Linked DNA regions of Homo sapiens. The protein of the gene in region 1 interacts with the protein of each later gene in a pairwise test. Each region holds a gene or a part of one and is shown on either strand. Other genes may lie near its edges.

What was found.
Region 2: the proteins of TRIM49C (region 1) and MINDY3 interact in binary tests that used the Homo sapiens proteins (3 or more experiments, as listed by UniProt).

Annotation. Positions count from the first base shown.
Region 1 is NC_000011.10:90,033,296-90,041,105, forward strand, and holds part of TRIM49C (tripartite motif-containing protein 49C), read left to right. Parts: intron 1-1,912; 5' UTR 1,913-1,916; coding exon 1,917-2,327; intron 2,328-2,592; coding exon 2,593-2,688; intron 2,689-4,453; coding exon 4,454-4,684; intron 4,685-5,397; coding exon 5,398-5,420; intron 5,421-6,569; coding exon 6,570-6,667; intron 6,668-7,755; coding exon 7,756-7,810.
Region 2 is NC_000010.11:15,836,223-15,844,032, reverse strand, and holds part of MINDY3 (ubiquitin carboxyl-terminal hydrolase MINDY-3), read left to right. Parts: intron 1-760; coding exon 761-821; intron 822-2,433; coding exon 2,434-2,607; intron 2,608-5,753; coding exon 5,754-5,805; intron 5,806-6,399; exon of another isoform or gene 6,400-6,471; coding exon of another isoform or gene 6,472-6,491; intron 6,492-6,714; coding exon 6,715-6,829; intron 6,830-7,810. UniProt on the Homo sapiens protein: Hydrolase that can remove 'Lys-48'-linked conjugated ubiquitin from proteins.

The DNA of each region.
Region 1 (7,810 bases):
TGCCAAAACAAAGATTATAGTTTTTATATTAGTCAGGGTTCTCCAGACAGAACCATAGGATGTATACATATATGTGTGCAGATACATTCATGGGCCATTTGAGTCAGCCACAGACCACATATGGTGGTCCCATAAGATTATAATACCAATATGTTTACTGTACCCTTTCTGTATTCAATTATGTTTAGATACACAAATAGTTATCATTGTGTTACAGTTGCCTACAGTATGCAGTACAGAACATACTGTACAGGTTTGTAGCCTATTGTAGGAACAATAGGCTATAGTGTATACCATAGGTGTAGTAGGCTATACCATCTAGATTTGTGTGGTATATTCTATCATATTAAAACAATGAAACCGCCTGGCTGGGCACTGTGGCGCGTGCCTATAATCCCAGCACTTTGCAAAGCCAAGGCAGGCAGATCACTTGAGGCCAGAAGTTCAAGTGCAGCCTGGCCAAGATGGCAAAACCCCATCTCTACTAAAAAAATACAAAAATTAGCCAGGCCTAGTGTCACGTTCCTGTAATCCCAGGTACTTGGGAACCTGATGCAGGAGAATCGCTCTGAACCTGGAGGCGGAGGTTACAGTGAGCCGAGATCACGCCACTGCATTTCAGCCTGCGTGACAGAAGGATACTCTGTCTCAAAAAAAAAAACAAAAAAAAAAACTAAAAACACCTGACATATTTCTCAGAACATACATCTGTCCACAAGCTATACATGATTCTACATGGGACAGAATTCATCAGGAAAATTAATTTGCTTGATTATGGAGTCTAGAGAGTTCCAATATAGGCTGTCTCTAAGCTGGTGTCCTGAGAATACCGGTATCCTGGCTAAGCTCAAGTCTGAAAGCTTCAGAACAAGTTTCAGGAGAGAGACGGAGGAAGTTGCCTTTTTTCTGCCTTTTTCTTTATATCTGAGGTGTCAGCTGATTGGATGGTGCCCACACACATTGAGAGATGAGGCTCCCACTCAGCTCACCAGCTCACATGTCTCTCTCCTCTAGAAACACCTTCACAGACTCACCCACAAACAATGCTTCACTAGTTCCCTAGGTGTTGGTTAATCCAGTCAGACTGATACCTAAAATTCACCATCACACTATGGAAATATAATTACACCTCTCTGAGTTTAACAAAAACCTCCTATATGTTAGTTCAGAGCTTGCACAGCCCTAGGGGAAGTTAATTTAATCCGCAAGAAAATAAAAAGACCCAATATCTTTAATAATTTTTCTTTTCCCTACTAGTGAAACTTGATTGGTTTAATTGCAGTCTTTTTCTTTGTTTATTTGGTTGGTTGGCTTTTTTTAAATTTTGTTTTGATTTGGGTCTTTGTTTTTAATTTAATTTAATTTTAAGTCCTGGGATAACTGCAGGACTTGCAGGCTTGTTATGTAGATAAACTTGTGCCATGGTGGTTTGCTGCCCGGCTTTTGTGACCCTCTATAAAAATATGTCATAGAACCATCTTCTCATATTTCTTTGGCCATCTTCTCATATTTCTTTGGCCTGGATAGTTTTTTCCCTCCCACTCTTTCACAGTCATTCATCAGTTATTGAAAGAAGAATAGGGACAACTATGATTTATTCTGACCACTTAGAATCAAAACCCAATTTCCAGATCTATGTTCAGAAAATGGGTAGTTGAATAGGTTTGTATTATGCTACAGACAGGAACTAGGAGTAGAAGGGACTGTGAGTCCTCTGGTTAGTAATATCTGTTATAAAGCCAGGAGACTCCCTCTAAGTGTAAATTTTTAAGTTTGTAACAGAAGAAATAGTTTGTTGTACTTTAATGAACACTGTCAAGAGAAGAAAATATAACTATCACATATCTCCACATGTTTAGAAGCTTTTCATCAACCCAGGCCCCAAAATGACATGTTTCTCTTTGTTCCTCAGAAACATGAATTCTGGAATCTTACAGGTCTTTCAGGGGGAACTCATCTGCCCCCTGTGCATGAACTACTTCATAGACCCGGTCACCATAGACTGTGGGCACAGCTTTTGCAGGCCTTGTTTCTACCTCAACTGGCAAGACATCCCATTTCTTGTCCAGTGCTCTGAATGCACAAAGTCAACAGAGCAGATAAACCTCAAAACCAACATTCATTTGAAGAAGATGGCTTCTCTTGCCAGAAAAGTCAGTCTCTGGCTATTCCTGAGCTCTGAGGAGCAAATGTGTGGCACTCACAGGGAGACAAAGAAGATATTCTGTGAAGTGGACAGGAGCCTGCTCTGTTTGCTGTGCTCCAGCTCTCAGGAGCACCGGTATCACAGACACCGTCCCATTGAGTGGGCTGCTGAGGAACACCGGGTAAGTGATGGCTCTGAAGATCGATTTCTGTAAAGGAAGCATAAAATTCCTGTGGGTCTATTTTCTTGGAGATTAGGTAAAGCCAACTCTGAGTCCCTTTAAGCAGCTCTGTTTGGGCTTTCTTAGCTTCCAACCTCTGGGCTTTGACAAACATGAAGGGAAACAAAGGAAATGCCATTTACTAGGGGCTTATTTGTCTCTCATTCTGGGCCCCCTCCCTATGTCATGGTCTGCACTGGTGCTTCAATTTATGGCTCTTTTGCAGGAGAAGCTTTTACAGAAAATGCAGTCTTTGTGGGAAAAAGCTTGTGAAAATCACAGAAACCTGAATGTGGAAACCACCAGAACCAGATGCTGGAAGGTTAGTCCTGTACTACTCTACCTTCTCCAGGAACTTATGGTGGGCAAATGGGTGACTCTTAAAATAGGAACTTGATATCAAACTGTAATGTTTCTGGGATACAGTAAAAAAAAAAAGGCGAGAGAAAACATTGAGAAAAAGTGGCCTCATTTTTATACAGAATAGTATGCCTGTTAGGTAGGATTTCTAAGAAAACTACTGATGTCACCCAAAGCATGCTGGTTTGTTTCATACAAACCTATAGTTATACACCAACAGATCCAAGAAACTGGGCCATCTCAAAGCATTCTATATTTGCTGGTTGGATAAATGCTAGGCAAAAGGGTTATTTGGCAGTCATGGAATGCTCAACTGAAACTTCTGAGTGTCGGTCAGCATTAATCTGAATGCTAGTGTGCAAGTAGTATTTGGAATTGCATGGAAAATTTGAGGCAGAAAAAGTGACAGGGCAAATCTAGGGAAACCATGAAATTAAGAATCTCAACTAATTAATATTGAATAATACATAACATACGATGAGAAAAGCGGTGAGAAATACGGATTTGTGTCTTGAGGGAGACATGTAAACATGCCAGAAATATGGGAACTAGTATCTAAACATAAGGAGAACTCTGAGGACTTCAGAAAAACATTAAAATAATTTTCTCTTTGTGGATGTATATTTTGAGGGTATGATAGCTAAGATTAGTTTGTTGAAAAGTATTTCATGAGAACCTAGTCTATGTTGAATATTAAATTAGAAAATATACTAGTAAAGAAGAAAGGAAGCACCTTTGTCCTCACAAATCATACAATCCAAATAAGAGAGTCAAATGGTCAATACACAAATATATGCAATACATGATGTATTTGAGTGTGGTAGGTTTTTGTTGGAGAATAATCAAGCAGGGAAGTAGAAAAGGACAATAGAGGCCAGAAACTGGAGATTAGTGTTTGAGTTTTAAATAGGGTGGTCAGAAAAAAGACTCACTGAAAAATTCAAATTGAAACAAAGTTTTCAAGAGGAGGGGGAACACAAATGTGTGTGTGGATATATATGTGGACCATGAGTGTGTATATGTATGTATGTGTGTGTGGTTGTGTGTATATATGTATGTATGTATGTATGTATGTATGTGTGTGTGTTTGTATACATATATATGTAATTCTAGTTGGAGAGAATAGCATATGCAGTAATTTTGAGTTTGTGTATATTTGGAGGCCGGAGGAACCACAAAGAAGTCTATGTTTCAGACTGGGATGACTTAGAAAAAGAATAGAAGGAAATGAATTCAGGGAGACAAAGATGGCCAAATCATAAATGCAGCCTTATTAGGATAGGTTTTGCTGAGCGAAATGCACTTAGCTGGACATGCTAGTCTAAGGTCATTTTCATATAATGAGTTTAAGCAACTTGTTGCATATCTCAGAAATAGAAAGAATTGTTTCCTTTCTAGTAACTATAGCCCTATACTCCAACTCTCAAGCATGAACTGTTCTTACTTTGCCATAAATATGGGTTGGAATAGAGAAATTCAAATTGTGTTTTTTTGTTTTCAACTATCTTAGAAAACACATTATCTTGAATAAATTTAACGTAATTGGTCAGATACAGCTATGTTGATCTTTATGCAGAAAAAAGGAAAGGAACAAAATTTGTAGATTCTAAGAACTGGCAAGACAGAAGTTTGAACTATTGGACGTTCGAGAGACAAAAGGAATCAGTGAGATTTAATAGGAGATGGATATATACATTTCTCTTTTGACTAACCCATTATCACTGCAGGATTATGTGAATTTAAGGCTAGAAGCAATTAGAGCTGAGTATCAGAAGATGCCTGCATTTCATCATGAAGAAGAAAAACATAATTTGGAGATGCTGAAAAAGAAGGGGAAAGAAATTTTTCATCGACTTCATTTAAGTAAAGCCAAAATGGCTCATAGGATGGAGATTTTAAGAGGAATGTATGAGGAGCTGAACGAAATGTGCCATAAACCAGATGTGGAGCTACTTCAGGTAAAAACTCGCCATGTGGTTTCAGGTTTTTGAATATTCACATGTATAAGTATTTTCCTCATGGCTGAAATCCATCTCCCTACTTTTATTTCCATGATGTGTTTCCAAAAACACATTCACATAACTAATGCTACTTTGTTGGGAGAGTATAGCCCCACTAAGGGATTCTACCAGGGCAAAGGTCCCTCCTACTTTATCCACCAGCCACAAAACTTTGTGGAATGGTCAAGGTAACAGCCCCAAGAAATATTCCCCATCTAATTCAATAATATACTTTGGGTTGTTAAACATGTATAGAATAGTGAGTGATTCATTTACATTTAGGTTAATTTGTAAACATGGCAAGATCAGAAGTTTTGGGAATCTAGGTTTGCATTAACATTATTTTGGGGTCCACTCATTTGGGTAACAGGTTCAGTTAAAGATGACTGAGTAGGTTTTTCATGGTTACCACAGACCATAGACCTTCTGGGCCTCTTCTCCCTTCACTTCTTTAGAGAATGTCTTCAAGACTCAGACTTTCCCAGGACGTTAATTAATAACAATACAACTGACTGGGTTTTTCATTACAGAAGAAATAGAAAATACTTTCCAGAAGAGAAGATGGTAGGGAAATAATATCTTCAGAAACTGAGTACAAATCTCACACTGAACTTAGTGAAAGATGCATCTTGTGAAATGCACTAAATCTTTCTTCTTTTTTTTTTTTTCAGGCTTTTGGAGACATATTACACAGGTGAGTGTGTACCTAGATTTTAGCATATGTTCTTTAAGATTCCACGACTATCAAAGCAGGCTCTATTAAAGTCATGGCATAAATAATTAAGATATTGATACCACTTTTTTTTGCATCTACTTTCGTTCCCACACCTTAAAAGACAAGGCCACGAAGTAAATAAATGAATAAAAGAAGAGTGAACTAAAACAAACAATTTGATTCCTGGTTTTGTTTTTTTTTGAGACGCTGTCTGGCTCTGTCGCCCAGGCTGGAGTGCAATGGCGCCATCTCGGCTCACTGCAAGCTCCGCCTCCCGGGTTCACACCATTCCCCTGCCTCAGCCTCCCGAGTACCCGGGACTACAGGCGCCCGCCACCACACCCGGCTAATTTTTTGTATTTTTAGTAGAGACTGGGTTTCACCATGTTAGCCAGGATGGTCTCTATCTCCTGACCCCGTGATCCGCCCGCCTCGGCCTCCCAAAGTGCTGGGATTACAGGCGTGAACCACCGTGCCCGGCCCCTGATTTTGTTTTATTGCTTGAAAGCCTGCACAGGAGAAAGATAAGAGTTTTGTTTTGTGAATGGTGAGAAAGTCACCAGAGGAAGCAGGAGAGAAGAGGAGGAAGTATTTTAGCAGCGAAAAAGTGTTGATGTTTTGTTTTTTATACATATATACATATCAGTTAACAGTTCTGAAAAATAGATTGAAAAAAACTGTGGAGTGTTAGAACTGTATAAGTCTCTAGGGAAGTTCTTTGCTAAAAGGGGAGAGAACAAGTTTCCATTCTTTATCTTGAGAAGGAAGCAGTGGATGCATCAGTCTCCCCAAAACCCCGCTATTTCAGACAAAGATGTCAGGGGAGTCTGCCAAGAAGTGGAACTCAGAATTTCGTTTCTAAATATTCTCAAGGCCATAAAGCTAAGGAACCTTACACATTTGGAGCAAAAAAAAAAGAAGGATCAGATTGGATTCTGGCTTAGATTCTTCCATCATGCTTTAAAATTTAGAAACTGTAAAGAATTAATTTGCAAAAGGAAGGATTAATTTTTGAATTATCAAATGTGTAGATTCAAAGGATTCTCATGAAATGTCTTTTATATACAAATAGTGATTTTTATTTATTTTATGGCTGTAGATGTTGTAACTGCAGGTTTTTCCTTGCAGGAGTGAGTCCGTGCTGCTGCACATGCCCCAGCCTCTGAATCCAGAGCTCAGTGCAGGGCCCATCACTGGACTGAGGGACAGGCTCAACCAATTCCGAGGTAAGTCTCCACCCACAGGCAGCACTCCCACTATCTAAATATTATTATTGTTAGGATCACATAGGTAATATTTCATATTTTATCAAATATTTTACTTCTTTTAAGACATAAGTGAACAATATAACCATGCAACCCTTTGGTATCCGTGTCTGTATTTACAGTCAGATTTATAGCATTAAGTTTGAAAGATAGTGAAAAAGAAATACTTTCTGGCATAATATGTACTGAGTTATATAACGGGAAAAAGGAGTAGTGTAGAAAATTTTAAAAAGGAGCAAATGAAATAATGCTCAGAATGGTGAATTATTTAATGTTAAATACAAAATTGTGCATTTCTTTAGTGTATTCATTTGAACTGCTAAGAACTGTTCTTTAGGGGAATATAGTTTTCTGGAGATTCTTGGGGGTTTTGTATTTTTTTAATGTGTATATATTATTCATATATTGCAAACATTTGAATTAATAGGTAAAGCTAAAAGGAAGAAATCATTTTGTGGATATAAGTAAAATTACAAATGAAAATAAGTTCAGTTTAATTGCAATATGAAGAGCTACATGTTAAGTCTAAAATCCAGCTTCAGCCCAGAGCTAGCATGGAGGACCTCAGAGAGACTGGTCAAAGATTTTGCAGAGATCTGCTTTAAATTATCACTTATAACATGTACATATGGATTTTTATCCAGATATCTAGAGCAGTTCTTAAGTGAAAATCTTCACATTCACATTCTTTCCAAAATGATAGCACTAGTTTTTAAGAATAAGAAACATTTCTAAATAATGATCTTGATAACAGCATTGCATTTAGGGCATATAATGTGTAAATTTTACTTTGAAAATTGGATTGAAAGAAGTTGGTCTCACATTTGGCTCTCAATATGTAAGTTTTCAAAAAAAAAACATAATATCTGTGGTTAGGGTTTTGTTTGTCTTGTATATAATATTAACCATCTCTATACTTTACTAGAAGTTACAAGCAAAACTTTTTATGACTTTACATTTGCTGGTAAAGTAACTTCTTGATAGAACAATTATTTTTTTCTTATTTACACATGTCTATGCATGTTTTCTTTTTTTTTTTTTTTTTGCAGTGCATATTACTCTGCATCATGAAGAAGCCAACAGTGATATCTTTCTGTATGAAAT
Region 2 (7,810 bases), on another chromosome or scaffold:
GTACACTAATACTTTCAAACACAGGTGAGGAAAAGTCGTCATTGTAACCTGTTTTTTCTTGGACCTGCCCTCTAGAGATTCAGAGAGAATAGGTGGAGCCCAAGAAACTGCAATTTAAACAAGTCAGGTGACTGGGATATAGCTACCGTTGAACTACACTTTGAGAAGTAGACACTTCACTGTGCAGCTTTTTATCAAATAACCAATGTAACATCGTTGACTCGCTTAAGGGGAAGTTTAGAAATCCATTTGTCTTTTCTTCTGAATCTTGTACCTTTTTGAGTTAAACTTGAGCTCCTGATAATAAAGTGATGACTCTAATAGTGTTAATCTTGTGTCACAGATGAAGACTAAGGGAACAGAACCACTTTTATATTTAGATTTCTTTTACCTGAAGGAATCTAAATGAAATGTAGACTTGTTCGTGTTCTACAGGGCTTTCACTTTGTGAATAGAGCAGTAAGTTTGTGTGCTTTTCAGTTATTCTGTTATGTGAGTTAGTTCTTCTACTTGTCAGAAAATATGTATTGTGGAAGAAGAAGAATTTTATGAATCTAGAATCAAGTTTATAGCAGTATACTCTGAATAAATAACTGCACAGTTCCTGTCAAATGTGAGGGGAACCCATTTGACATCTTTACAGAACTAGTCAAAAGATTAGAAAGGGAGTACACATTATTTTTTCCCACTTTAAAATTGAAGAATGATATGATGTATGGTTATAATGCATTTCACTAATTATTGCTTTAATTGTGTAAAGGCATTTCTTTTGAAGAAGCTCCTGTTTTCTTCGGAGAAGTCTTCTTGGCGGGATTGTTCAGGTATGATAGCTGTCTTTTAAAACTTTTGCTTCCTCCTCTGTTTTAATAGAGATGATCTAAAATTATCTGAGAAAGTCAAGTATCAGTGGGAATTTTTTTTCCTGAGGTTTCCTTTTAAAATGTTTTAGAAAGTTTCATGAACAGTGACTCCATATTTCCAAATTTGGCTTTCTAACCAGGGGTTATAAGACATGATGGTATAACTAAGGGAAAAACGTTTGGCCTCTTGGTAAAACACGGTGCATTTCCTAGAACTGTTAGGTGGCAGCATGCCATAAAGAACAGTCTTTTTTTTTTTTTTTTTTTTGTAGTCTTATTTAGCTGTGGGCAAGACCTCAGAATTATCATTATATTCCTGCATGTTTTAGTATAATGCCTTACACAATGCAAATACTGCAAATAATTTTGGATGAAATTGCAAATGAAGCTGTCATAGCTTCTGTAACATGAGCTTCTGTACCCAGAGAGATGTGTGGTGCCACCTTATAATAACAAGAATTTGCATTCCACGTGACAGTTTACAAAGATCTTTCCTTCACTTACACAATTTCCTGTGAACCTCACAGTAAATTCTGGAAGAAGTTAGGACACATTACAATCCCAGTTTTGTATCTAAGGATGTAACAGCTTACATTCCAAACCATGACTATAGAATCTACTAATGATTTTGAATTTAAGAGTTAAGGGATCACTTCCATAAGTTTTAAATTAATAGGTGAAATACAAAACAAATTTTAGTAGAGAAGAAACTATTTGAGATACTATTTTTGAAATGAACTTTTAATAAAATTTATACTATTTCTTATACTATATTCACTATATTCACTTTGATAAAACATTTGTAAAGCATTGTCATAAGTGTCATAAATACTGTGGTGATTAGAAAGTGAACAGCATAGTTCCTGCAGTTAAAGAACTGTTAATCCATTAGGAGAGACAGAAACCTCCTTGTATCATAAAATTTTTGAAAGTTTCAGAAAGTAATACTACTTCTTGAGAGTAATACTGCTTGAAAAGAGTGTGGCTAAGGTTCATAAAGAGATGGTCTGAGCATTTGCGCCATTTTCTATAAAATTCTAATGCTCAAATCTGTATTCTAACCACTGGCTTCTGCTGATGTAATGGACTTTGGTAACATATGTGCTGACGGTCTCTCATCTCATTATTCTTATCCCTTTGGGACGGGGTGATCATAGACGTTAGATTAATTCAGATGTGAGGGAAAAAAAATAGAGGTTTCAACAGGCCTTTACATTGTGCTCAGTTCTTCAGTAGAGGAAACCTCTTGGCTTAAATGCTGCAGTTGCTAAAGTTTTAAGAAAGTGATGATCAGTGTCACATTATGATCTTTCATAATGTTTAGTTCTGCATTTTTCAGTATTCTTTTTCTACTTGGTGGTGTTATTTGGATGGCTTTATTTAAAGTGGTGATATTTTAATCCACAAACACATTGTTTTTCTAAGACATAATTTAAAATCTATTTAGAGATTTTTCCCCCATTTTTAAAATGCTTGATTTTCATCATTAACCCATTCTTACTATTGTTATTCATGACAGAATTTTTTTTTTTCCAGAGGAAACCATTATAACTTATGCTTTGGTTATTTTTAGAGGAAGAGCAGAAGGAACTCCTTTGTCATACCTTGTGTGATATTTTAGAAAGTGCTTGTTGTGACCACTCTGGATCATACTGCTTGGTTTCATGGTTAAGAGGAAAGACAACTGAGGAAACTGCTAGTATTTCTGGGAGTCCTGCAGAGTCTAGTTGCCAAGTGGAACATTCTTGTAAGATATATTTTTATTTCCTGAAGTTTTTTTCTTGTTCCTTTGTTTTAATGAATCTATTGAATATTTTGAAGAAAAAATTACTTAAAATTTTCATAACATGTATTCTTTTCCAGCTTAAGCTTAATTACTGAGCCTCACTATTTTTTATTTCCATATCATTTATTTTAACTACTTAGAAGATACTACATTTTTGCAAAAAAAAATGCATCTCTTAAACTTTTAAAAATGTTCTGGTTAACTTCTGCTTGATAATAATCTCTTTTGAGCTTTAGAACTCTTATTTAGAAATAATGATATGCTTCAGTTTCAGATGCCTTAATGTTTTGCTTTGGTATTGCAAAAACGGATTTTTTTGGACATCAGAAGATTTCATAAAGTTATCTTTACTTGCTTCCCAGAGCAAAGATGGGGACATTTCTCCTCATTGCAAGCTGTTTCTTTTCTTTCCGAATTATTTGGATATTTTTATACATATAGATTATTTTAAGGCAATTTTAATTATGCCTTAAGTTTTTCATACCTTGAAGATAAGTTAAATAATAGCTGTTTACGTTAAATAATAGCTATTCTCATTATTCATAAAAATTATATATTCTGTGGTTTTTAACTTTTGAAAATTGTTATGTAATTGACCCGAAAGCTGCCAGTGTGAAATGGAGACAGCTAGTGGTACGGAAGCTAGTTAAGAGTTGCTTTTCTGATTTGCTTTTCAGGAATAATCTTGCTAGTTGATGGTTTTTTATAATTGGTAGTCCCAAGTGCTTATGTTAAATAAGTGACTTATTCTACCCACAGAGCATCACATTAACTATCATCTTTGTGGAAAGTTTTCGTAAAGAGATTACGTACCTGAAAGTACACTTCAATTGTATGGGATACACATTTTGCTTTCCATATAGTATTATCTATAAGGTGCTGTTGCCTCCCTGGACTAAAATGCCTCTGTGTTGTCAGTGTCTTTTTTCTCCTACCTCTGCAGTTAAAATGCCTTAAGCCTGGCAAATTCTAATAGTAGTAACATTTGCAAGGAATAATTTTGAACATTTGAACAGCTATATGATGCTTCCTTTTGAAGCCTTTGAAATATGGCCTTTCAAAAAGAACTTAACATATTTTAGAGTTTATAATGACATTTGAAGACAACAAGTGGAAAACAGTCACAAGGATGCTAGTCCAAAGTGTCACTAAGATTGGTTTTAACATATTCTCCAGGTTTTACTGTGTGGGTGTTAGCACACTTAATAGGTTCATTTAGGATATTAAAATTTTGAAAGAGGAATTGTTGATCTTTTGAAAAGGTATTTTAAAGATTTTGTGCTTAAAGCCAGTCTGTATATTGATGTGAGAAAATAGTAAGATCTTTTTATATAACATTTTCCATTAGTATCTTAACAGTATACTGAGTGCATACTATGAAATATGCTATGCAGTTCTGTGGTGATACGTCACGTTGCTATAGGTTAAAGGGCCTTATAATGCATTCCCTTTGGTACTTCAGTAACTAATTTAGATGGGCATATTATATTGAATTACCCTCCAGAAAACATTTTAGTAATTTTTCCAGTTTACTTTGTATCTCATTTTAAAAGTTGCCATGAAGTAAACCATATTTTAAATTTTTTAAATAATGTATACATTTGAAATACTTTGTTAACTGAAAATTTGAGAATTTACCTTAGTGACAAATGAACTGTATTTATATTACAATTTTTATTCCGTGTAACAATCTATTTTACCTGTTCTTTCCTTTATTCCCAGCTTTGTTCTTTTTCTTGTGTTTTATATTTTTTCACCATCCCTGCCTGCTAAGCTTTTTATTTTGCTTGCCTCTTTTCTCTAAATTATTATCTTTATGTCTACTCTTGTAGTATACCCAGTAAAACTATTTAGATAATCTAATGTTGCAGAACAAGCAGTATAATTTGGAAAAGATTAGGTAGAATTTTCATTTTCTGAAAGTTTTAATGTAAAGTGTTTTCCCCTCTTGTTAATATTACTTTCTCTACAAACATTAATTTCATTGGCTTATGTGGTGTGTATAGTTTTGGCTTGTTGGTAATGCACAGTTGTTCGCAGTAGTGAATACTCAGGTTCAATTTCAGTTTGTTTCCCACATAAACCAAGAAATAACTTAATACATTTGGACTGCTAAAGATTTTAAAACGAAATATGAAACACTCACAACTAGGCTTTGGAAAGCTAGCATAATGTGACATTTTAAATTGTAAATAAAAATCTAAAATTTTGACTTCATAATGAATCAATTTTCTTAACTCACCAGTGAGAATTTATATTTGATAGTAGTAAGATTTGCTTTATGAAATATATGTGAAGTTATTCATTGTGATAAATAACTCCCTGGAGCCAAGACTATCTGTGCTCAAGTCTCATCTCTGCTGTTTAATCCTATGTACTCTTGAGAGGATTTTTCTGTGTGCCTCAGGTTCCTCTTCTGTAAAATGGAGCTAAGAGGGTTTATATGAGGATTAAATGAGGTAAGACATGTAGGGCATTTAGAAAAGGGCCTGGCACTTAGTAAAGTGCTCAATAAACATTACCTCTGATTAAAATGCTTTCTTCTATTTCCTTTGATTAATAAACATAATCTAAATAAGTTACTGAAAACTTTTTAACAGTTATACAAATAAATGAGGAAACAAACTTAAAGCTGTCATTGAACCTGTGTAGTTTGAAAGTGTTATGCCTTTTTATACATGTTTGTTTAATAATTAAGCCTTAAACCTAAAGATTTTATATTATAAAAAGGAAGGTTAGCTCTGATGATATTACTTGGATTTATATAATCTGAAAGATTATTTAAAAGTGCAGGACACATTATGATATGTGAGGCACTGATTATCAGTAATTTTTCATACTTTATAACTGCCGTAGCATAGCTGAACTGAAATGTTATTTAATCACCCTTCTATATTCTCAGTATTATATCGATTTTAGTTATATTCATAATAAAGATGTTGAAATATAAATTCATGTTATAATGAAGTTGAAAATAAACTGAGAATTTTAAGGGAGTAAGGAAATAGGGAAAGTTTTGATTGCTTGAAAGTATTTACAGCCTGCTGTGTGTATCTTGTGTCATTTATTTGCCATGTGTAGTGCTGAAAAGTGTCTTTTATGTATAGCTGCCTTGGCTGTCGAAGAGCTTGGCTTTGAGCGATTTCATGCATTAATTCAGTAAGTAACATTGGAACATTTAAAATACTTACTCTGTGGACACATTGCCACTTTAAGTCTGTTCATACTGTGGAAAGGTTCTTAGTTTTACATAGAAATGCGCTACTTAAACATAAATTTTAAATCCATTGCTTCAGGATTAATTTGCCTTTAAATTAAAATAGTTTGTAAATGTATAAACTATGCTGAGTCCTTAATTAACTACCCAGATACGCTTTTCAAAAACATTAAAAAGCTTTTTCATCATTACAATGAAAAAAAATCATTTTAGCTTAATGTTTCTGTGACCTAAACAAATATGAAGATTTCTAGTAGGATAAATATTAGAATTATTTATTTGCCAGTATCTGTTTTCTATACCTTTTATTAAGAATACCGATATTTTTGTTAGAGCATTTAAACTTTTTATTACAAAGTAAAAGGTAAAGATGGCTGTTGATAGAATTATGGGTGGCATTTGGTTTAAAATGTAACATTAATTTCTTTTAAAAGAAGCCGCAAATGTGTAAGTTATCTTTGGCATTAAGATATTTGTTAAGTAATTTCTAGGATTTAAAAAGTGAAGTTTTCTTTGTGTTTACCCCCTCTTACAAGAAGGCCACTCTATTCTTTAAATAACTGTATATTATTGAAGAATTTACTGATGCCAGACAGTTCACCTAAGAGATGAAGAGGTTCCCTGCCAAGTAGGTGTTCTTTCTTAATGATAAATATCATATATAGTGATAGTTGTCAGAAATAGCTTTTGGTTTTAGTGGCTAAATTTGTAATGAAAAATTTAGAAACGTCCCAAAACTTTCCTGTTTGTATGTATATGTTTTAATGTATAAGAAAATTTAAAAATTTTCCCTTTTATGAATGTAGTTAATCTCATCATGATACCAATACTTAATTCTTTTTTTCCCCCAGAAAAAGATCGTTCAGAAGTTTACCAGAATTAAAAGATGCTGTCTTGGACCAGTATTCAATGTGGGGAAATAAATTTGGAGTATTGCTTTTTCTGTATTCTGTATTACTGACAAAGGTGTGTTCAAGAAGATGATTTTTCTGCCTTTGATTAATGTTGTTCAGTGCTGTTTTTCCTGCAGTGATGAGTAATTTTATTCCTGATGGTGTTTTTAAATTCTTAGAATAAAAATCTTTTACGTTGAAAATGAGTTAATTTCTGTTTCCTCAGCACTCACTCGTTGCTTAAGCAGTTTCACCTCTGCTCTTTTGGACTACAGAGATTATCAATAATGTTCTGGTTGTGAAATGCTGTCCTTTCTTCCAAATTGTGTTTCCTTTGATCCTTCCGTGTAGCACTTGACCCCTTAACCCCTTCTGGAAGCTGTTTTTGACCTTGATTCCATTTCTTGATTTTTTTTTTGAAAAATCACTGTGTGAGTTTTCTTTCTATAATGTCTCACGATTCTTATTTTGTTTTGTTTTCTTTGATAGCTTTGTTTCCTTCTTTATCTGTTACCTCCTGCTCTTTTCTCTCCTCCTCTAAATTTTTATAGTCCAGAAATTTTCTTCCCTGGATCCAGTATGCCTTTTATGGATATTTCATTTGCTCAGGTTACCTTTATATAGCTATTTAATAGTTCCAATATGTCCCCTTCTAGTCCTACTCTTTTTCCCCAAATACCAGTCTCATAGCTCTAGTAACGTGTTAGTCTCAGTTGACTATGCTATTAGATCTATCATGTCTGAAATCAAACTTCTTTTATTTGACAAATGTTTTTTGAGCGTTGATTGACTCTATGCTAGGGACTATGTCTGTATTAATAATATGGGATGCATTTTTAATGGTATCTATTTAGCATTGTAAAAAAATGGCACATTAATAATTCCATTATGGCAGTGTGTTTTGGCGTTTGGTCTTCTGTCTGAACCTATTAGATGGAATCAAGGGCATACTGTTTCTAGTAGGGACCATCTGACAGAGATAGGACCTTGATGCATGAGGGCAAGTTTTCTATATGGGAAAGCTGGAGGACATTTTTTCCAGCAGTGGGCACTG